Linked DNA regions of Homo sapiens: regions 1, 2 and 4 are each linked to region 3. The links come from fine-mapping of genetic effects on gene expression. A gene starts in region 3. Each other region holds a variant in brackets. All regions are shown on one strand. Distances are from middle to middle.

Region 1 (6,120 bases), 21 kb before region 3:
GTGACATTTGAAATCAGCATAGAAAAGTTAGATAATTTAATGAATAGTATTTGGGATAACTAATTTGTTAAGGGAAATATATGAGTTGAGTTGTATCCTCAAAAAGATGTGTTGAAGTCCTAACCCCTGGTACCTATGAATGTGATCTTAACTGGAAAGTGTCTTTACAGATGTAATCAAGTTAAGAGGAGGTCATACTGGATTAGAGTGGGACTAATCAATCCAATTGACTGGTGTCCTTATAAAGATCTGGACACAGACATACAGAGAAGAATGCCAGGTGACAAGAGGCAGAAATTGGAATAATGCAGCCATAAGTCAGAGAATATCAAGGATTGACAACAATCACTAGAAACTAGGAAGGGGCCCTCCACCCCTAGAGCTTTCAGATAGAATCTGGCCCTATTGAAACCTTGATTTCAGACCTCTAGCCTCTGAACTGTGAGATAACAAATTTCTGTTGTTTTAAGCCACCCAAGTTTGTGGTAATTTATTACGGCAGCCACAGGAAACTAAAACAAAAAAATAAAGCTGGATCTCTATCTCTGTCCTCAAAGGAAAAAAATCTAGATGGATAGAAGAATTAAATGTAAAACAATCATCACCAAAGACCAGAAGAAAACATGAGTGAAAACTTCTATCTTTTGGGGAAAGGGGAAGGGCTTTTTAAAAATAGAAGGAAATAAATAAATTTGACTTTATAAACAACTTAAACATCTGTGTGGTAAGTCAAAAGGCAGGAAATTATAAAATAAATCTGTAACTCAGGGCAGATAAAGGGTAGTAAGAAAGATATAAACAGCCCATAAAAAAATGGACAAAGAACAAGATGAGTTGGCATGAAACTATAAATAAGATATAAAAACATGCTCAAATTTACTAAAGAAATGCAAATGCATTTAATGTGTAAAGTGTTTTACCGAGATTAAAGACTTATTTCAGTCAATTAGCTAGGGTGTAAAAACAGGTACTTCATTCACATTTGATGGGAGTACACATTGGTATAATCATTTTGGAGGGTAGTAAGTATTACCTCTTCCTTGGCTATTTCAATTATTTTCATATTTTTGCTTTTCCCATTCTAATGTGTGCATTGTTCATGTAGTTTTTTTTTTTTTTTTGTAATTTTCCCACAAGAGAGATCAAAGTCTGTTGAAGGATATTACTTTTGTGGAATGTGATATGTATGGGGTATCAGTTTGAAAAGCAATTTACAAGACATTACCCTAAAATCAGTGACTATACCAGTTCCACTGCAAACCACACCACTACTTTTTTCACTGATAGTATCTCATTTGTAATTTGCATTTTTAAGTGAAGAGAAATATCTTTCCAGAAACCAAAGAAATGTGATTTGCTACTCATGTAAATTGTATTTCATTTTTTTTGGTCCATTAATTCACAGATTCATATTAATTTCTGAATATTTCTATCCTCTTAGTAATTCCAAGAAATCCTTGGGTAACATATATATTAACTCTTGGTTTGCCTCTCACTGGGGATTCTTTCCACACCATGTAATTCTCAAGGTTCCATCCATTTCCATGGCTCTGCCCACCACCTTTATGCTAGATTCCTCAATCCACATGCTCTACAGCTAAATCTTTTCTTCTCAAACCACTTAGAACAGTGTTCTGCACACTGGGTGTTAAGCACTGAAATATAGACCTATAAGGACCATTTAAAAATATTATTTTTAGGGTTGTTTTAAATATTAAATATGAACAATTAGCAAATAATCCTATAGCATTAATGCATGGAAACAAGCAGTGGATATAAAAATATTCTGCTTAACTATGAAAGACTGCCTAAGTGCTTGAATAAATGAATACAAAAACGAGTTTTAAAATTCTTTATTTAAAAATCTCTAACTGTAATGTTTCATAAAAAATATACACGTTTCTATTTACATATTCCATTAATTCTATTAGTTTGAATTAGATTTTAAGTCCAATTTTGAAAAGCTTGCAGAATTTCTTCTGAAATTACTTAAAATTACTGTATGCATAAACTTACAAAAACATATGCTATACCAAGGCAGAGAAAAGAAAAAAAGTGAAGTGGCTACAAAGGTCCCTGGGGCATCACCTGCTCACCTAGGAACCAGGAGTACTGGATACTGTTCCGTTACTGGTAACCTATCTGGATGTAAAGGTTCATAAGTTACAATGCTTTTTTTGTTTAAAAAAAAAAAAAAGTCTGTACTTTACAAGCCAAAAGTGAAAATGCCACACATCCTCTTTACGCTTTCATGTACACTAAGTCACTCCATTTGGTTGATACCAACTAAGATACAATTTCTGAGATCATAATCTTTTCATGAAATTAAAGCAGAAAACTGTC[C/T]AGGAAAATCAGACTTCAAAGTTGGTGCAACTTAGCTGATCTCATGAAAATTCTTTGGAATCTTCTGTTGGTCTATAACCAATCAAGGACTCTTTACCGCTATCATCCACAAGTAGATCCACTAGCACATGTGGTTTATCATAACCAAAGGAGGTGGGGGCTTTTATTACGGTTATGAGCTCTTGTCCTTCTGTTTTTATTTCACCTTTATTATTTGGGGGAAATTCTGAGTCAGATAAGGAGCTATGTGATTCCAGACAGCTGGAATCAGTATCAAAACCATTTCTGGAGTGATCACTCTCAGAACAATTTCTGGAGTGATACGAGTTTAAAGCGATGCTGCCAGGTTCAGACTGGTTACTACTTAAAGGTGAAGAACTCTCTCTCTCTATTGGAGTCAGATGGCTGCCCGGGACCACGTCAGGAATATTTTCTTCAGTAGTCACCACTTCTGTTATACTAGAAAGTTCTTCTGTATGTTCCACTTTTCCTGGATTGTCTTCGGTATGCATGCCTGGAACTGTTGCTGGAGACAACGGCTCTTCACAGACCACCTCCTTTTCTAAGGAAAATGGCTGGTATGACGTGATGAGTGATACATATTTTGATTCAGGTTTTGTCTCTAAAGTAGCACTTCTTACCACAGAGATCTATGGGGAGAAAAATTGATTAAAGATAAAAAATTGTTAAGCTTAAGTGCCTACCCTCAAAAAAAACAAAGGTCTGAAGTAATGGACCACCAAATGGCACATTTAGGATAATGGGTGAATCAGATGTTGCCATTTCTTTTTAATGAAAGGTCCCATAGTAATATTAAAAACAAAGTTTTAGAATTTTTAAAAAGCCATCAGATATCTTACTAATATATGTTGCTTTTTGTACGTTACTGTGATGGTTAATACTGAGTGTCAACTTGATTGGACTGAAGGATACAAAGTATTGATCCTGGGTGTGTCTGTGAGGGTGCTGCCAAAGGAGATTAACATTTGAGTCAGTGGGCTGGGAAAGGAAGACCCGCCCTTAACCCGAATGGGCACAATCTAATCAGCTGCCAGCATGGCTAGAATGTAAGCAGGCAGAAAAATGTGAAAAGAGAGACTGGCCTAGCCTCCCAGCCTACATCTTTCTCCCATGCTGAATGCTTCCTGCCCTTGAACATCGGACTCTGAATTCTTCAAGTTTGGAGCTTGGACTGGCTCTCCTTGCTCCTCAGCCTGCAGATGGCCTATTGTGGGACCTCTGATCGTGTGAGTTAATACTAAATAATACTAAATAAACTCCCCTTTATATATATATATATGAAAAATATAATTAATATATATTATATAATATATAATTTATAATATATAATATATAATTTATAATTTATAATATATTATATAAAATATAATTTATATTACATAAAATATATAATTTATAATATATTATATAAACATATAATTTATAATATAATATATAAAATATATAACTTATATTATATAAAATATATAATTTATAATATATTATATAAAATATATAATTTATAATATATTATATATAATATATAATATATATTATATAACATATAAAATATATATAATATATAATATATAAAATATAGATTTATATAAAGGGGAGTTTATTTGGTATTATATATATATCTTTATATATATATTCCATTAGTTCTGTCCCTCTAGAGAATCCTAATACAATTATCTTCCACATGTACGCACATTATGTTTACAAAGTGGGCACATCTACTTAAGTAATATTCTCATTACTTGCCTTCATCATTATAATTTTTAGTAGCTCATATTATTTCTTTATACTGATAAATAATTTAATAGATGGGGAAATGTTTCCAATTTTTACTAGCTATGGAACATGTTAAATATCCTGTACATCTTTTTATTTATGAAATTATTTCCTTATAATACATTTTTTAAGAGTGGAGTGACCATATCAAAGAAATGGTATGTTTACGTCACTATTACACTGAATACCCACTGTGTGCTTTTATTCTTACCAGGGCTAGATTACTTTTCACCAGCATTTACCCGTTATGCTACTGCTGGTACTACTGGATATCCAGGTTTCTTTTTTCTTCTCTAGCGCGTGTAAAATGGCATACTGCAAGGTTACTTTGTGCTTAATTACTAGTAAGAATAAAATATTATAATTCATTTGTGAGTTGACTACTAACTGTTGAGAGTTCTTATCCACTTTAAAGGTAGTTTATAGCAAATTTTAATGTGCCCTTTGAGCATCACAGATATTATTCCTGTCATATTTGACTCAAATAGATACTATTCTGTTACCTTTAAATGTTCTTTACATCAAAGGCTTTGAAATGTTGGACATTAAAATCGTCAAACTCCTACGTTAGTCTCATTTTTGGCCAACTTTCCTTTCATACTCCAACCATAATGAAGTGTTTCTGTATTTGCAGAGCTTTCAAAGTCATGCTTTCTTGGCTCTGGACCTCAGCACATTCTGTCCCCTAGTGCCTAAACTCCTGTATGTCCCTCAAGACTGCTCAGGCATTGCCTCTGGAAAAGCCATGACTAACCCCACCCCAAAGCTGGACAAAGTCCTCATGGGCTCAGGTATAAATCTTTGAATCTATCACACGTTATATAGCCAATGTATATTTATCTTTTCTTCCCCCTAGACTTTAAGATCTTTAACAGAATTGTCTCACCGTGTTTTTCCCTGAGAATAAAAAAAAAAACAAAATACTTGCTGCACAGCAAAAGACACAGTATGTGATTTTGCATGTGTGGTAGACTGACTGATTGATGGCAGGTGACATCTTGTTGAATATCATTCTACTTTAAAAACATAATTTAAGAAACTATCAAAAAAGGTTCAAGTTAACTTTTTAGTGTATATAAAAAAATTAAATACATTACCAAGGACTTGGGTAATATTATGCTTTTTTCCTTCAATGGATTAATTTTCTTAATATAAAAACAGATGAATACCAGGCTAAGCACTAGAAAGAGTAGTAAAGCAGCAACAACTGGAATCCAAAGAGAACCTTAAAAAAGGCAGAAATCACAAGTTACAATTAAGATGGAATACTGCTATTATCTATCAAAAAGTCTTAGTGCCATTCTTGAATAGATTTACAAATTAGTGAATAGGGCCAGAGTTTTAAAGAACACTGAAGGAAGCAGAAGTTAGGAAATCTGAGTAAAAAATTAGGTATCTGTCTTAGATAGCAATATGGTTCTTCCCAGCTCTGCAATTCTAGAACTTTCTGGGACTATTCTACTATGACACAACATAGTTAAAATAGCTTTTCTACAATAATTTCCTTACAGCCCTACATACAGTGTGTTTCCAGGGTTATGCATTTCTTTCGGTTAAAAATGCAAAAGAATAATTTTAAAAATACCTCTCCTTAGAAACAAATTCTGGCAGCTGGGCACAGTGGCTCAAGCCTGTAATCCCAGCACTTTGGGAAGTCGAGGTGGGCGGATCACGAGGTCAAGAGATCGAGACAATCTTGGCCAACATGGTGAAACCCCATCTCTACTAAAAATACAAAAATTAGCTGGGTGTGGTGGCATGCGCCTGTAGTCCCAGCTACGTGGGAGGCTGAGGCAGGAGAATCGCTTGGACCTGGGAAGTGGAGGTAGCAGTGAGCTGAGATTGTGCCACTGGACTCCAGCCTGGTGACAGAGCGAGACTCCATTTCAAAACAAAACAAAACAACAAAAAAAAAAAGAAAGAAATTCTGGCAATGTTTATTGCTCTTAAGATGATTTAGCCCCACTCCTCAGAATTTCCTGT
Region 2 (6,120 bases), 87 kb after region 3:
GAAGGAGAAAAAGAGTGAGTACAAACCCTCAGAGATTCCTTCTCTCTTCTGAATAGTTACAGCAGAAGTCTATTTTCACTTTTAGTGGGCTGGTCAGCATCTGGATGAGTAGTATTTGTAGATTTCCAGGCTTCTGTGGTTTGGAGGTTTATGATAAGGATTTTACTGTTGGATGGGAATCAGAGTTCCTGCAAACTGATCCTGATCCTTGACTCAGTCGGGCCACCTGGCTATGGCAGTATGTTGCAGACAAATGGCTGTAGTCACATGGCTCGGCAGTAAAGGTATGTTGAAAGGTAGTTCTCCAGAGAGAAAGGTAGATCTCTCTCATTTCTTACATCTTGTGAGCAGAACTAACAGACCCCTTGTTCTTTTCAAAGATGTTTGTATAGTAAATAGTCTTGGAAAACAGAGGTAAGATCTCTCTCCACAACAGAGGGCAGGTTTGTTTGCTGTCCAGTATAATAATATCTCTCTCTAGGGCAAAGAGAGAGATATATTATTTTCTTTAATGAGCGGGTTTGTTTGTAGCCCATTAAAGAAAAATAAAGTTTTCCTAAATTTGGGATTCCTTGGCTATTGTAACCAAATTCATGTTCAGCTGCTCACTGCTTGAAAAGCCAGACATGAGAAGTGAGGATTAGTGGGAGGAAAGCAGGTTTCTTCAAGTGCTAGAAGCTTGAGGAAACAGCCTGACTCAACTCTCAAAAAACCATCTCAAATTCTCAGTTTGGCTAAAGAGGTTTAAAGGGGAAAGGTGGCATGGAAACTATGCACCAGCATGGTGCGGGGTGCAAGTTTGCTTGTAATTTTCTGGTGACTTTTTTCAGTAATGGACCACCCAGAGGCCTCACTGGCATCATCTCAGCAGGGTTCAGGTTATGGATTAATTGAACACCAATTTTTTCTCAGAAGGGAGAAAATTGCAACTGCTATCTCCACTTTATGCCTACATTATTTCAATATTGGCCACTGGAATTCTCTAGCAAACAGTTACATGTAACAAGGAACAAAGGGAGGGAGGGGTTACTTTTAGAGTAAGCTAGCAAACTGGCTATACTAGTTACAATATGATGCAAACCTCCTTCATGTATCGACCCAGCCCACCTTCATTACTCCAGTGAGACTTAGCAGAACAAGGGGTTGATGTGAATATGAAAACACATGCTACCCGTTGTGTTGGAAGTAAGAAAGTCCTTTGAGTCTAATCCAGAGTCTTGTGGCTTTTGCAATTATCCATGAAATTGTGGCAGGATAAATTGTTAGCTTGCTTTTTGGTAAATAGCTTAGGTCTTCACAGCTCTTGACAGGCAGGACACTGGTGCAAGACTCCAAACTGCAGCAGGATCATGATAAGGGTGTCTTTGAACAACACACTTGGAGTTAGGCATTATCCAGGTAGAACAGAGCTAATAGTTTCTGCTTGATCCATATTGATTATGAATTTGACAAGTTTCTATCACACAGATCACTCAGGAAATCAGTGTTAATGGAAATGATTACACAGGGGACTATAATTTTATTTACAGTATGTGAAAGTTGAAAAACATAGGGACATAAATACAATGTCTAATTAAATTCTGTTTTAATTCCTTTTGGACTGCCGGGACCAGTTCGGTCGGGGAGACCCTAACCTAGTGGCGCTAGAGGAATTAAAGACACATACACAGAAATATAGAGGTGTGAAGTGGGAAATCAGGGGTCTCACAGCCTTCAGAACTGAGAGCCCCGAACAGAGATTTACCCAGTGTTTATTAATAGCAAGCCAGTCATTAGCATTGTTTTTATAGATATTAGATTAACTAAAAGTATCCCTTATGGGAAACGAAGGGATGGGCCAAAATAAAGGGTTGGGTTTGGCTAGTTATCTGCAGCAGGAGCATGTCCTTAAGGATCGCTCATAATATTGTTTGTGGATTAAGAATGCCTTTAAGCAATTTTCTGCCCTGGGTGGGCCAGGTGTTCCTTGCCCTCATTCTGGTAAACCCACAACCTTCCAGCATGGGCGTTATGGCCATCATGAACATGTCACAGTGCTGCAGAGATTTTGTTTATGGGCAATTTTGGGGCCAGTTTATGGCCAGGTTTTGGGGGGCCTGTTCCCAACATTGGACCACTTTTCATCCACTTCCATTCAAAGTCTGGATGATGGAACAAATAAATAAGGTGATCATTAATGTATATATGGATTTTCCATTTTATTTTTCATATTACAAAGTGATATGATAGACTGAATTGAGCCTGAGCTTGAGATTTATTGAAAGCAGATTTTCCTTTATCATCAGCTGTCATTTTAAATATACTAAGGAGAATATGCAACACTGGGATTTATGAGACGTGGCTTGAGTTGCTACACTTTGCCTTGGTGGAAATTCCAGTCTTGTGAGAGATACTGGAATGAAATACATCTTAGTTAGTTTACTGGAGGAACACCATAACATTTGGGTTAAGAGCACAGATAATGAAGATACACTGCCCATGTTTGAATTCTGGCTTTATGTCTACAGCCATACCACCCTGAATGTGCCTGATCTCATCTGAATTCTGTCTTTATCATTTACTAGCTGTGTGATCCGAAGTAAGTTACTTAACCTTTCTAAGCCTCAGTGTTCTCTTTTGTAACATGGGGATAATAGGACTTACCTGATAGGGTTTTTGTGAGAATTAAATGAATGTATACACATGTATAGTTGTGCTTATAATGGTATCTGGCACATATATGTACTGTAAGTTTTTGGTATTATTATACATATATGTACATTATTGGTACATATACTAAGACCAGTATTTCATATCATAAAACTGAGAATAATATCTGAAATAACTATTATTTGAATTTTTCCCTCCCCTCTAAAAAAATGTTAACTTGCTTACAAATAATTACCTGTGTGGAAATGTCTGCAAATAGTCATTACTCTAATTAGTTCATGGAGGATATGTTGGGCCAAATAGATACAGCAATACTTAATTTTCCTTTACAGAGTTAATGGTTTTTAACCCTAACAATTTATCATTCAAAACATCTGAGTGCCTACTATGTGCAAAGTTACATATTGGCCATCTTTTAGCTCAAAAAGATTGTTCCCTACTAATTCTGAGACTAGTAAAAGTCTTCTGTAAAACTCTTTGATAGTCATGAGGGTATTGGGGCTGACAATATGATACCCCAAAGTAAGGCACCTTGGCATGCTGAGTACTTTGAACTAAAGGAGATTGAAAGACTGAGA[G/A]GCACGGTCCTTCTGCTCCTCTCCCGTCCTCCTATCTGTTGCCCCTCTTTCTACCACAAAGCGAGTCATAGAAACCAGAATTCCTCTTTCCCAAGGTGGGTCACAGAAACTAGAACCTCTTTCTTCCAAAGCAAGTCATAAAACATATAAAGGTCACTCTCTCCCTTCTCCCTTGAAAATTCTCATTCCAGATGGGTCCTGCCCCATATCCAGGAGGAAAGAAGGCTACACAGGGAGGCCAAAAAGAATCTGATCAGTCAGACCTCACTGGGTTCTGCCCTCAGTCTATTACCCTTTGGTCCAATCACACTTCTACACGGCTACCCATTCTTCATTGATCCTAAGCATAAAAATAGATGGTTTTCCCAGGGTCTTTAGGTCTTCATCTCTGAAGTTTCCCATGTCACATAAAACTTTGATTAAATAAATTTGTTACGCTTTTCTCTTGCTAACCAGTCAGTCTTTTGTTATAGAAATGTCAGCTGTGCTGGATGAGGAAAGGTGTCACATCTTTCTGCCCTTACAAGTGCATAAAGAGGTCTGTTGCTTACAAAATGTCTGGCGCATAATAAACATTCAAAAAAACAATGTGTCATTAGCACTGTCAGGCCCGGCCTATTGTGGAGCGTCTGTAAATGCAGGTGGTGCTAAGTCTGATCACAAAATAACTGAAATCACAGATTACCAATGATTGGTAGTTGGGTTGGGTTAGTAGTTTAAGAAATTATTCCATACTTCATGGGTACAGACCTTTTGTCCTGTGACCCTTGCATTTTAGACTACCTGTCTTTATGTATTTTAGCTTTATCTTTGGCGGGTAGATGAAAAGTCAGCATGTTCTTATTTATTTTTAAAATTTGAGGAACTCCGTGATCAGAAACCGTCGTGTGTGTGTGTGTGTGTGTTTCCATTTTATAGCCTAACTTCCTCTTGGGTCTCATATAGCTTAGTCTATTTTCTAACATGAACTTCCTTCCTTTCTGCATAACAGTGTCTGAATTTGCAGGACTCTGTACCCAATAAGTGTTGTTAACTGATTGGTAATCTGTGATTTCAGTTATTTTGTGATCAGACTTAGCACCACCTGCATTTACAGATGCTCCACAATAGGCCTGACCTGAGAGTGCTAATGACACATGGTTTTTTTAATTGTTTATTATGTGCCAGACATTTTGTAAATAAAATCTCATTTAATAACGTTAAACTGTACTTAAAGCATCTAGTTATTTAGAAGTCACATAGCTGTAAAAACAGCCCACTTGTCAAATCCAATAATTATGAGTATTACTTATCATATTTTATGCTGCGTTAGGTCTAAAGGCATATATAGATATTGCTTATCCTAATATTTTTTCCAAGGCAAAGTGTAGCTACTTAGGTCAAACTGTAAAGTCTAATTATGTTGACACATAGAGCAAGGATTAAGGCATTAAATATTTGGGATTTCTATTCATATTTTAAAAGTCACAGAAAATTACATTTCTTGACCCTTTTTTTTCCACATTTTAATTATGCCAAAAATGATTTTAACTAAACATTTTTCCTTATCAGAAAAAAAACCTGGCTTAAAAACAGTGTCTTCTCTCTATCTCTGGCAATATCAATATTGATATATAAAAAGGACAGTATATACAGGTAACTTTCCTAAGCCTCCCAAGACCCCTTTCATAATCCAGGCTATGTGCTTACTCCATAATGTTGTACAGTCCTGGTGGGGTCTGCTTCGCTGTTTCCAAACTGTGAGGAGCTTTGAAAACCATCCAGTCCCATTTCTTGGTTTTACAGATGGTGAAATGAAGGCCCAGAGAGATAAAATTAACCTAAGCAAAGTCATTGAAGAATAGGAAAGAGTAGTGTAAAATCACACTGCTAGAAAAAAAATCTTCCTTCATAATTAATTTTGAAAATTCCATGTCTAATCTGGAACTAAATATTCCCTGTAAAAGAAAATTCCTTGAATACCATGGATAATGCATTCTAATATCTAACAACCTTTTTAGTCAGAAGTGTCATTCTTGAGTGTAATAACCTCTTTTCATGCAAATTAAGCTTATTTCCACTTGTTAGATGCTTAACAGAGATGGATGATAGTCACTTTAGTAATTATAATCACACAAATGTGCATTAAAATATTTGTCAGTGTTAACTTATGCTCCATTATTTTCTTTGTACTTGCTAAAGAATTCAACATTTAAAATTTTCTAACATGTCTTTGCTTCCCATCCCCAGTTACTGAGACAGAAATCTCAATATCATGATTTGCTCCTCTATATTTTTCACTTTTACCTCTAATAAATTACTAAGGCCTGTTTGGTTTTGTTCCTTTGGTAGCCCTCAAATCTCCCAACCTTAATGTCACAATTTAATTTATACCACAGTCATTTATCACATTTCTCACATTATCACATTTCACTTGTGATAATTGCTGATTGATTAGTCAGCAATTATTGTGACAACAGCCAATTCTAAAATCTTGGTTGTTTAACGAACAAACAAACATTTATTTCTTGTTTGTGTTACATGAAGACAGCAGGTTAACCGCAGGTTTGACTGGGAGGGGTGGGGCTTGCCTGAGTCTAGCCGGGCTTGCCTGACTTTGGCTCGGCTCCACATCTTATGTCATTCCAGGGCTCAGGCTGAGGCAGCAGTTCCTGTTTGAGGTTAACTAGTCTCATGGCCAAGGGAAGAAGCTCAGGAAGGACAGAGCCACATCACATACACTTAAAACTTCTGCTCGGAGGTGGCATATGTTAAGTCCACTAGGATTCTGTTGGCCAGAGTGAGTCCTGTGGCCAAGCTCATAGTTGTTAGGATAGGGCAGTATACTATACCCACAGGAGAGTGTGCTCAGAGTCAGGAGGGAGCCAACAATTGCGAACAAGTAATGGAGTCT
Region 3 (6,120 bases):
CTCATCTGGATGAAGAAAGCCAGTGGCACACCCTGATTCACTTAAAAATATATACTACTTTTATGTGTAAAAGTGCATGAAGAGTGAAATACTACTGATTAAGTGGCACACACAGATTTTATTTTCACTTAAGAAGTATTAATGAAAGCCCATGAATGTAACACAATACATTCCTAAACACCTGGATTTCCTGGAGACTGACTATATCACCATATTCACTTGTCTGCTTCCCTGTTCTTACCAGGTCCTCTCATCTAAGATGAACTTCAACTATAGAGTCAAGCCCAGCAACAGTAAGAATAAGGCTGGGAAGCTAAGCAAGAGCCAGAGCATTGTTGGTTTCTTCCTACTTTGGAGATTTTGTGTTTTAAATTAACTTTAAAAGAACAGGGAACACAACAAAATCTAGAGAAATGCACTGAAAAATCTAGAGAAATGTGTTAGAAATGCACTTTAAAAAGAGGGCTCACTGAAACTAATGAAAAGCAAGGCCGGGGTGCTTGTCTCTTCTAGGGGAGTCAGGAAAGGCTTCACAAAAGTGACCCCAGTTTTAGAACGAGAGGTACAGAGACAAATTCAAAAGTTTCTGCAGAATATAGAAGGCTGCAGTTGATCTTCCCACGGGAGGCAGACAGGCAATCCTCCTCCCAGAGCAAGCTACAAGGACGTGCAAATTGTGCACTCACAGGGGTCACACGGTGCACTCATAGGGCCCCGTATTCAGAAGGAAGGGCCTGGCACTTGCTTTAACGCTATGCCTGCGCTAGCGTTATCCTCTTTCTCTGCTGACATCCAGTCAGAGGCCTACTAACTCTTCCTTCTAAATGTTCTGCTAACTGTCCTCTTCTCCACTTAAACTACTTATCGACTCCAACTTAAGCAGCAGCCTCCTAATGGGCCTTGTGTTTACCCTCAAACTATTTTATAAGATGACTGGTCTTTCTAAATGGCATGTCTGATCCTGCATAAAATCATTTCCCTTTGTAATTGATAATCCAATGATGTCAGCATTAGTAAATAATGACTGACTTCAGCAAGGCATAGTGGGTGTATTATTTTGTTGGCTCAACACCTGTACTTCAGGCACGCCATTCCGCTTCTTCTGGTAACCCAACCCAACCCTCTACGAGAATGTCCTTCCCATGCAAGCTGGCACCTGAACCTAGCTGGGCAAATCAGAGCCTTTCCCTGGCATTTTGTTAGAATGGAGGAGGCTGCAAGATGTCAAAACTCAGAAGCTGTCAGCATCCATGATTCCTGCCAAGTGTGGAAAGCTGTCAATACCCAGACAGAAATAAGAAATGGAGAGTCCTAGCAGTTTGGGTTCCTGGTTCTAGCCTCTTGAGACCCAGCTGGCATCTATAATTTTCTGTTTAACTCTGGTTTTTCTGAGACAATAAATTCCTCTTTTTGCTTAAGTTAATAAAGCTAGGTTTCTTGCTGGTACACATAATATGGCAATTCATTATTTGGTTCCTACTTCTCCACCTAACCTATCTCCTCCCCTTGTAAGCTCTCACACACACTTTACAATAGAACGCTTAATATTCCACGAATTCAACATGCTATCACACCTCTGCACCTCAGTCTCTGCACCTCTGGTTCCAACACTGGGGTCACCTTTGTGAAGTCTTCACTGACTTCCCTAAAAGAGACAAGCACCCCGCCTTGCTTTCCACTAGTCTGTGCCTAAGTGCAAGCTCTTACCGCAAAGTACTGCAACTGCCCATGTGGATGACTGACTAGAGCCTAGAAGAGCAGTTAAGAACTTGGACTCTGGAGCCAAATTGAGCAGCTCCCCACTGAGTGGCTATGACCTCTCTGCCAGTTGGGCAGGCCTCTCCGTAACTCAATTTCTCGTCCATAAAGAGAGAGACAAATAACGCCTACTCCAGAAGATTGTTGTGAACACAGAACCAAAACGTGGACCTTTCAAAGTCCCTATGAATCATAAATCATAATAAAAAAAAGAAAACTGAATTGAAAAGGTTTACTGTTTTCTCTGGAGCTCGTAATCACAATTACTCTGCACTTCAGAAAAGCCACCCTCAACATTTGTTTTCTAGGAAATGTCAATAAGCAGGTGGAAATAAAATGCTCCGAAGAACAAACCCGTACGAAGAGACCTACTGCCAAATCTGCTAGTGAGTGCCGGCAATCCACCACTTCCAGACTGAGACCTAAGACGGACTGCCACTTACTTCTCAGCTGCCACTTACTTCTCAGCTGGCGACATAATGCATACTTTCCTACCCTAAGCACTTTGAGTCCCCCCCCCCACCCCCGCTAAGAAAGAAGTATTTAAGCCACGAACTGAGACCACGATGCCACATGCTGATCAGGACACTCACAGTCATGCGTCACTTAACGATGGAGATCCGTTCTGAGAAATGGAGAAATGTCCCCTTAGGCAATTTCTTCGGGCAGTAGAAACCCAGACAAACCCAGATGACACAGCCTACTGCTCTTAGGTCATGAACCTGTACAGCCTGTCACTGCACTGAACACTGCAGGCAACCGTAGCATACTAGTGAGTATCTGCGTATCTAACCATAAAAAAAGGTACAGTAAGAAGACGATATTATAATCTTTGAGACCACGCTGTCCCACATTGACCAGCAACGTCCTTCTGCAGCGCATAATCGTATTTAAAAGTGGATTACAAGAGTCGGAAAAACAAGCGGCGTGATTTGTTGTGGCGGCAACCAGGGAAGAGGCAGGAGAAAGGCAACCGACGAGTTCAAACCACGGAGCCCCAGTCTCGCGACCCCACCTCGCGTCCCCGTCGCCCGCTCAGGGCCCGACGCAGGGGTCCCGGGCTAGGGCGACCTCGGAGAAGCGGGGCGGGGCTTCCCGGCTGGGGCGGATCCCTCCCTCCCTCTCGTCCCGACCCGGCCGCAGCCCTGCCGCGAACGACGGTACCTGAGGACGGCCCCAGATCCGCGGTGCCCATCTCAGCCCTGCTCACACCCTGCATGACAAGGGGTAGGAGAAAGAGGAGAGCCATGCTGCTACCGACGGTCGCTGGCTCCAACCCCGAGCGCCTGCGGGACCAGCCCAGCACTGCCCTCCAGCCCCGGCCTTACGTCACTTCCGTCACCGGGGTCTGTGCCGGCGTCGGCAGGAGGCGGGACCAGGGCGTGGGCGGGGTCAAGTCCGGGAAGCCGCAGGAGGCGGACTCAGGCGCAGCACCCAGCAGTGAGCACGGCGTCGTGCGGTCGGGACCTGGACTTCTGGGTGTGGGAGGAATTTGAGTGCAAAGGTTAAGGTCTTTCAACCTGGCACCCCATTCTGCAATTCTTCTTCCAGTTTTTTTCGGTTTCCTGGGGTTGTGCAAGTTTGCATTAGGCCACAGCCGAGCCACAATCCTTATTTTACTAACTCTTGGACTTCACCTGGTTGTCTTGGAGCCTGACATTTTTAGAAGAGAATGAGACTTCAAAAGCCATTTCCAGTCCCTGCTTTTTCATTTGAGGAACCTGAGACTTAGCTAGTGAAATGGTTTGTGCAGATTCCCACAGCCCAAATCAAATCGGCTTGACCAAGAACTACTTTGTTCTTGGAGAAAAAAACTATTTGCATTACCTTCTCAGCAATTCAGTGTCAAATCAGTTTATCAGGCAGCCTCTCATGAAGAGGTCTGCTCTCTTACCTCTCTGGGTTTGTCTGTTATTTTGCATCTCTCCTATTCCACTGCAGCCACATTGCTAAGTCCTTCAGCGCTTGTGCTCAAACATGCGAATGTCTAATGATCTCACCTGTTTCAATTCTCTGAGTATCATGAACTTTTGTTAAAAATTTTAAATTGCAACACACCTTCTCCTCCTCCTTACCCCGCCCTACTGTTTTTTCATGGCACTTTTCACCTTGCTGTACACTATAATATACACCTTGATATTTGTTTTCTTCTCCTTCTAAAATGTAAGCTCCGTAGAGCTGACATCTTTACTTGGCACTCAATTAGTATTTGTTGAGTGAAAGACTGCATGATTACTAGTGTTAAGGAAAATTTTTAAAGAGGGAAAATCCTTATAAAGACACTATATAAACTAGAGGTATTATCAGCCAGATCATTTTACTTGTATTAATAAATCTCTTAGCTCAGTACTTCTCAAACTTCAACATACATGTGAACCATCTGGGGATCTTGATAAAATGCAGATTTGGATTCAGTAGTTCTAATTCAGGTTGGGTCTTGAGATTTTGTATTTCGGACAAAATGCACAGGGGATGCTGGTGCCCCTTTCAACAGGACCACACTTTGAATCAGAAGAATTTAGCTCAATCTAGACTAAGTTTAGGGAGAATATTTCCTTTGATGTGTTTCTGATGTCCACTATATGAAAGACACCTTCTAGTCGTTGTAAGGATGCAAGGATAAATAACTGATCTTTACCGTTTAGGCGTCTATGGAGTAGGACAAAATATGATATCCAGTTTGTAAACATTTTTGTGGTACTTGTCACAGGCTGGGTTACCCTGGCAGTAAACTCTGAGGTCGAGATTAAGGTATAAGGCATTGATTGATTAGGGAGTGCTCTTGGAATAAACGTCTGTGAAGGGGAGGTGGAGGAAGCAGAGCGGAGGAAGAAGTTGATCTGTGATGCCATCCCAGTAAAGGCTCCCAAGGGGCGCTCTGGAGTTGGGATGGCCTTGTAAAGGTGTCTTGAGTTGGTATGAGGGGCTGGGTCTTAAAGCCCAGCACTGATTAGTCATTGAATACCAACTGTCATGATTTTGGGGCTGTCCATTTCTTTCATGGAGGCATTCCCCAGAGGAACGCTGACGGTTGAGGGTGTCTACTGGCAGCCCTCCTAGCATCAGGAAGGGGACAGAACCCAGTCTTCTGTTCCTGAGAGGGATCTGGGCAAGTTTCACAATCACAGCACCCACCACCCTACGTATCCTTCTGAAGACTTTGCTAGTTAGTCATTTGGAGACTAAATATATTTATTAATTGGGTGAATATTATCAAGTGATACTGTCTGTGACTGACATGACCAGGCACAGAGATAAAGACCTGAGCAAGACAGACATGGCCCCTGCCCTCACGGAGCTTACTGTCTACTGAGGGAGATAGCTGTTAAACAAGGAATTACACAAGTACTGAAATCGTGATCATCATTCCCAAGGAGAGCAATGGGAAGAGATTAAAGGAGTATAAACAGGAATTTAACTTAGTCTACATTTTAAAGAAAGTCTTTCTTTTCTTTTTTCTTTCTTTTGAGACAGGGTCTCACTCTGTCGTCTAGGCTGCAGTGCAGAGGCATGATCATAGCTTACTGCAGCCTCAAACTCCTGGGCCCAAATGATCCTCTTGCCCCAGCCTCCCAAATAGCTGGGACTACAGGTGTACACCACCATGCCTGGCTAATTTTTTTTTTTTTTTTTGAGACAGGGTCTGACTGTATCACCTAGCTGAGGTACAGTGGCACAATCTCAGCTGACTGCAACCTCCACCTCCCGGGCGCAAGCCATCCTTCCACCTCAGCCTCCCAAGTAGCTGGGACCACAGGCATTTTTTTGTGTCTTTTGTGGAGATGGGGTTTCACCATGTTGCCCAGGCTGATCTCAAACTCCTGAGCTCAAGCAATCCGCCCACCTTGGCCTCCCAAAGTGCTGGGATTACAGGAGTGAGCCACCTCGCCTGGCCTTATGCCCGGCTAGTTTTTAAATTTTTTATAGAGCTGGGGTCTTGCTGTGTTGCTCAGGCTGGTCTCAAACTCCTGGGCTCAAATGATTCTCCTGCCTCAGGCTCCCAAAATGCTGGGATTACAGGTGTGAGCCACTGTGTCTGGATTTAGGGAAATTCTTTTTTAAGGAAGTTACCATTATGTTGTGACCTGAAGGATAAGGTAAAATTAGCCTGAATAAAGTTAAAAGATGGGGGTGGCCACCGGCTAATAAGAGAGGTAGGAAGAAGAGCAATAAACTGTATTTTAAAATCCCATATAAAAATCTCATACAGCTAACACAGAAACAAATGAGCGGTGCCAGCTTTCCTTGATAAATTTCCAATGCCTAATGGCTGGGGAATATCCAAGTATACGTTGGTCCCCACTAGAGCCTCAGATTAGTTTTTAAAATGAAGAAAACAAATTGGGGTGGAGCGTAGATCAT
Region 4 (6,120 bases), 21 kb after region 3:
TAGGAGACAGCCTGGGGCAGTACTCAGGAATCCAGTCCTGAAATAACAGGGGCCTGAACTAGATTGTAATGTTGGTAAAGGCTGGGTGTGATAAAATAAAAAAAAATGTATAAAGAGGGTGGAAATGATAAAAGGATTATCAAAATTAGTAGCTGAATATTATTGACATGAGGGTAAATAAGGAGTTGACATGCTTGAAGTTTCACATTTAGACAATAAGGAGAAGGATCCCAACAGTACAGTGAAACATTTTTCAAGTCCCTGTCTTGCTAAATCCAATGGTCATGCACTTCCCCAGCTGCATTTTACTTGACCTATCAGCATATTGACATAGGCTAACTGACACACAAGAAGGTCCCTTCTTCTTTCCTCTCTGAATCTTAGGGTACTGTTATACTTCCTCTTGATTCCTTTGTTTTACTGGCTGCTCTTTCTCATTCTCCTTTGCTGATTCCTCCTTATTCTCCTTTGCTGGTTCCTCCTCATCTTCTCCACATCCGAATATTTAAATCTCTAGCCCAAACCTTTTTCTTAGACCCCAGACTTGCATATTTACCTAGCTACTCAACACTTCCCCTTGAGTGTCTAATAAACATCTCAAACTTCAACATATCCACGACCAAACTCTGGATCTCCATAACCCCAAGCCTGCTTCTTTCAGTCTTCCTCTCTTCTTCCAAATGCTCAGGCGCAAAACCTTGAGATCACCTTTGATGTCCCTCTTTCTTTTCTGCCCCACATTATCTCCATCAGCGTATGTTTCTGGCTTCACCTACAAAATATGCCTGGAATCTGACCATTTCTTTCCAATTCTACTGCACCGTAGTGGACCAAATCATCATTATCTCCTAACTGGATTCTTGCTGAAACTCTCTGTTTTTACTCTTGTCCTCTTAGATCCATCCTAATGGCAGGAGCCAGAGTAATTTAAAAGAAAAAACACTCTAAGCTCATCATTCTGCTGTTCAGAATCCTTCAATGGTTTCTTATCTTATTCAGAGTTAAAGTCCTTACAATAGTCAATGGCTAAAGGATTCTCCAGCAATTGACTTCTTGCTACTGCTCTAACCCAGGACTGGCTACATAATTTGCATTTCCTAGTACCAAATGAAATGTGGGGCTTCTTATTAAAAATATTATGAAGTAATTCAAGGTGCTGATGACAGAGCATTAAACAAAGTGCAGTGCCCTTCTATGCCCATGGCCTTCTGTGACTGCACATCTGCACAGCTAGCCTTGCTCACACCTCGTCTTGTGCCACTTTTTCTTTTGCTTTCTCTGCTCCATTTATAAGGCCTTTTGTAGGTTTCTTGAACATACCAGTCAGGCTCCAACCTCACATTCTGTTCCTCTGCTTGAATTGCTTTTACCTAGATATGCGTGCAATTCATTTCCTGGTTTCCACCAGGAGTCTGCTTAAATATCCGTTGATAAACAGGGACATTGGGAAGGAGCTGTTTGGGGCATAATAGATAATATAATGGCATTTAGGCCTATTTGTAGACTCATGGAATTGTACAGGGTAGATCAGAGAGCATTTAAATGTACTTATTTCTAGGATTAAAAAATCTGACGACAAAATAAATTAAATGCCTACCTAAACTTATATACTACCTGTTATGAATTGAGAGCATGGTATTCAAAATAAAAATTCTCAGAAGTTAAGGATATATGGCTCATGCCTGTAATCACAGCACTTTAGGAGGCCAAGGCAGGCATATCACTTGAGCTCAGGAGTTCGAGACCAGCCTGGGCAACATGGTGAAACCCCATCTCTACAAAAAATAGCTGGGCATGGGCCTGTAGTTCCAGCTATTTTGGAGGCTGAGATGAGAGGATCACTTGAGCTCAGGAGGCAGAGGCTGCAGCAGTGAGCTGAGATCGTGCCACTGCACCCTAGCCTAGGCGACAGAGCGAGACCTCAAAAGAAAAAAAAAGAGAGAGGAAGAAATTAAGGATACATGATGCATACATGGAGGAGTAGTGTAGGATGTGTCAAACAGCACCAGTCATAAAGTCTTACAGGTAGGCAATGTTCTAATTCTAACATACTCATTTTGGGGAAGTGTTTTTAAAAGCAATAGGTAAAATAAATGAAAGAATATATATAGAAAAGAGCAAAGGCCTTCAAGCCTCTTCTTTTGGAAATATCCATAGCTATAGGGAAAGACAATTTGCTAAAAAAAAAAAAAAATAGAGCTTTAATTCTGGAGTCAGACAGCCATGGTTTTGAATTTTGGCTTATTCATTTATAAGCCATGAAACTGATTCTCTATGCCTTATTTTCCTCACTTGTAAAAGGTGGATGATAATAATAATAATTTTTCCACAGGATTTTGGGAAGAATGAATGAGCTAACCCATGTAATGCAGTATAGCAGCTTGCACATAAATAAATGGTATTTCATATTTTGATAACTTACAGGAAGAGATATTCCATACCATAAAATACATCAAGCTGCATTTAAAAAATTGTCCCTTTTTCCATAGTCCTAACTTTGAATGTAACATTTTTAGTTGTTGCTTTATAAAGACATGGATGTTTATGCTGTAATTGTTTGTGGTTTGGTTGAGGGGAAGTTACACCATGTGCTTTA[T/C]TTTATGCTGACATTACAAGAAAGTTTCTCTGTTGTTCCAAGGAACGCTTTTTTTTTCTTTTTTGAGACAGAGTCACCTTCTGCTGCCCAGGCTGGAGTGCAGTGGTGCAATCATGGCTTGCTGCAGGCTCAAATTTCTGGGCTCAAGTAATCCTCCTGCTTCTGCCTCTTGAGTAACTATAGGCATGCATCACCATGCCTGGCTAGCAATCCTCCTGCCTCAGCCTCTTGAGTAACTGCTTCTACAGGCATGCATCACCATGCCTGGCTAATTAAAAAAAAAAAAATTTGGTAGAGAGTGGATCTCACTTTGTTGCCCAGGCTGGTCTTGAACCCCTAGCCTCAAATGATCCTCCCACCTCGGCCTCCCAGAATGTTGGGATTACAGGGATGAGCCACTGAGCCCAGCTGGAGTACAAAATTTTTTTTTTTAATTGAGGCAGAGTCTTACTCTACTACCCAGGCTGGAGTGCAATGGCGCGATCTCAGCTCAGTGCAACCTCCGCCTCCCAGGTCAAGCCATTCTCCTGCTTCAGCCTCCCGAGTAGCTGGGATTACAGGCACGTTCCCCCACACCCAGCTAATTTTTGTATTTTTAGTAGAGGTGGGGTTTCATCATGTTGACCAGGCTGGTCTCTTAGCTCCTGACCTCAGGTGATCCGCTCGCCTCGGCCTCCCAAAATGCTGGGACTACAGGCGTAAGCCACCGCATCCGGCCAGCACAACATTTTTGAATAACTTAAAGTATGGTTTCAAACAGAAATTTCTGGGTATTGAGAAAAACTGGCATGTTTCTGAATTGTTGTTCAGCTGTACTTTTTGTTTCGAATAGAAATGCTTCAGATTGGCAGCCTGTTCTTATTATAGAGACTAGCGTATGCAACATGACTTATTTCCTTCACTTTGTCTCTAAAGTGAACCCTTTAACCCTTATACTAGATGTTTCTTTATCAAAAACTGGATAATGGCTTTATTCTCTATTATTTTATACAAGGATATATTTAGGGATAACTTTTCAAAAACATCAGCCATAGTTATCAAGAAAGAGAGGCGACAAAGGCTCTTATTCAAGTTCCATTAACTTTGACATTCCAGAAGATATGAACTTTAGATTTTGGAAAGATGCCCCAAATAAATGTTCTATCTGCCACTGAAAAAGTCTTTACTATTGACTCATTATCCCTAGGACATGAGTTGCTTTTCTGGTTATGATTTTTCAAAACCAGAAAAGAATGTTCCTTAACCTAGTCTTTCTCTTAGTACTCCTGTACTGCCTATTAGAAATGGCTGATCAGGATGTGGGACACACATTGCGTTATATTCACTTTTAGTGTTCATTGCTAACTGGCAATGAAAGAGTTCTGTATCTAGCCAGAGACAGCAATGCGGGACTGTGCTTATTTGTACAGTGTCTATGGTACATTAGTCAAATATTTGAGGGTTTTTATAGAGAATTATGTTGGCTTCCTGGAAGTTCTTTTTGCTTGTAGATTATCCTGACTGGCTGTGACAATTGCTATTGCTCTGTGTTTGCTAGAATTTACCAGCTCGTTGGATCCCACAAGGGAGCAAAATAGAAAAAAAAAAAGATTAAAGCAAAATGGAATGTACCAGCTCTGTGCTGGGAATACCTGTGTGTTGAAATGAGGACATACCAGAATCAACTTTGCCTTTGTTCACAGTCCAGATGAGGAGTCACCACTGGCCTTATTAGAGATAAGATTCAGATAAGAGCTCTGCCTTTTTTTTTTTTTTTTTTTTTGTCATGTGCTTCTAAGGAAATCATAAAGCTTTAAGCATAGGGATTGTGATTGAAAAATATAATTAGAACAAGAATCAAAGAAATACAAAAACTTAAATATAATTACCATTCTCATCCCTATTTCACAGATACTGGTGCTCCATTCATTCTTCATTTCTTCCTTAGAAAAATACTTGTTTAGCTTTACTCTAAATCGCAATACGTCTTGCCCCAAATTCTCCCATGCTATGCACAGATTCAGGGCTTTGAGGATTCTACCCAATTCATGAGGTCAGAATTCCTAATATTTTTCTTGCTACTTTCAGATTCTTGAATATTAAAATTCTTGCCACTTTTTCTAAGGCTTCCTCAAGTCTTAGTTCTAAGGTAATTCCCGGAGGGTCTCATTCCCTTTGAAATTTGAAAATTGGAATTTCTTTATTATTCCTGCCACATGGAAGTAAAAGAGACAATTGTATCTGCCTATGAAAGGCTTTACAGTTTCCCTGTTAAAACTAATATATATATAGTTTAACTAATTAGAAAATCCTCTCTCTTTGTTCAACCATAGCTCCAGCTTTATTATTTCCCTAACGTATACTACAGAGTCCCTTTACAGTCGCCTCTCTCAGAGGGTGGATCTGCAGAAAACACAGTTGTGACAAACTCTAACTTTAAAATATATATTTAAACAATTATGTTTTAAGCAGTAAGATTTGGAAGTAGAGAAATACATGCTATCACTATACAGGCCCATTTTACCATTAATAACATAAAAGCAGACAGTACTATATATTTTACTTATTTATTACTGTCTCTCCCTATAATTTTTTGTGTTTTTATTAATTTATGTACGCTTAGCACCTAGAATAGTACCTGGTATATAAAAGACATTGAAATCTTTGTTCAAAGAGTTAATTAGTGTTTTTGTCTTCCGTTGTAGCTCATGTAACTATTAAGGGTCCTACTGTGTGGTATTGTGTTTAAAAGATGTGAATGAGAGATAAGAGTTTCAAACAAGAAAATCTTATATTTTAGCTATTACTCCCTGAAAGGTGTAATTATGTGATGGTTATGTCTTATCTTTTGTATAAGAATTCTGAGTAGGAAAAATAAGTAATCTGTATTTATTTTATATCTCATACAAATATAACATTTTGTTACAAAAATAAATTGATACAAGGGTTGGAAGTTCTGGATCCCAGTCCCAGCTCCCTCCTTGATTATGTCTGGGTCCATGAGCACATTTATGTTTACCTTTCTGGATATAGTTCTGTTAACAGCATCACCAGGTTGGGCTAGATGCTCCCCACTATCTCCACTCTTCCTGTTCTCATTGCACCCTGGTTACCTATCGATTTCTCCCCACTTACGGCATTGTATTGAACACATCTGCCTATGTGTGTTTCCCTACTTGATTTGAGAAACTTGGACGCTACCTCACTAAAAAATAATGGCTACTATTTTTGAGTACTATCAAGTGCTATATTCTACCTATTGTATGTTACTTAGAACACCATTAAATAAGTATATCTAAGTCAATTTTGAAGAAGTGAAAATTTAAGACTTTGAGAACTTAAACAACGTGCACCAGGTCTGTAAACTTATGAGATTCCAATCTCTACTCTAACCCCAAAGTCTCTGCTCTTAGCCCTCTACACTATATCCTACTTCTTATCTACAGGATGATCATCATGTCCTGAACCCCTACTAAGTGCCAAATATTTATATCTTGATTATAATCCTGAAAATAACCTCGCACAGTAGACATGATTATTCTCAG

Evidence for each region. PIP is the estimated chance that this variant, and not a neighbour inherited with it, causes the effect.
Region 1: its variant is fine-mapped to the expression of IFNGR1 in whole blood (TOPMed, PIP above 0.99). The same link has a PIP of 0.9 or more in T cells and esophagus mucosa.
Region 2: its variant is fine-mapped to the expression of IFNGR1 in whole blood (TOPMed, PIP above 0.99). The same link has a PIP of 0.9 or more in blood mononuclear cells.
Region 4: its variant is fine-mapped to the expression of IFNGR1 in whole blood (INTERVAL, PIP above 0.99).

What each region holds. Positions count from the first base shown.
Region 1 is chr6:137,195,647-137,201,766 of GRCh38, forward strand. IFNGR1 (interferon gamma receptor 1) reads right to left here. Exons shown (of 7, transcript NM_000416.3): 6 at 5,235-5,362; 7 at 1,839-2,993. The coding sequence ends at 2,385. Among named protein-coding and RNA genes, the nearest start is that of IFNGR1, 21 kb to the right of the region's middle. The variant C/T (reference allele first, on the strand shown) is at 2,344.
Region 2 is chr6:137,303,510-137,309,629 of GRCh38, forward strand. It overlaps LOC105378017 (a long non-coding RNA gene), which reads right to left. Exons shown (of 3, transcript XR_943043.1): 2 at 4,917-5,047; 3 at 2,263-2,392. Among named protein-coding and RNA genes, the nearest start is that of IFNGR1, 87 kb to the left of the region's middle. The variant G/A (reference allele first, on the strand shown) is at 3,228.
Region 3 is chr6:137,216,321-137,222,440 of GRCh38, forward strand. It overlaps IFNGR1 (interferon gamma receptor 1), which reads right to left and starts at 3,065. Exons shown (of 7, transcript NM_000416.3): 1 at 2,923-3,065. The coding sequence starts at 3,007. RefSeq lists enhancers at 1,205-1,264, 2,705-3,435, 3,286-3,535 and silencers at 2,246-2,295, 2,756-2,975, 3,016-3,245.
Region 4 is chr6:137,237,675-137,243,794 of GRCh38, forward strand. No RefSeq gene overlaps it. Among named protein-coding and RNA genes, the nearest start is that of IFNGR1, 21 kb to the left of the region's middle. The variant T/C (reference allele first, on the strand shown) is at 2,597.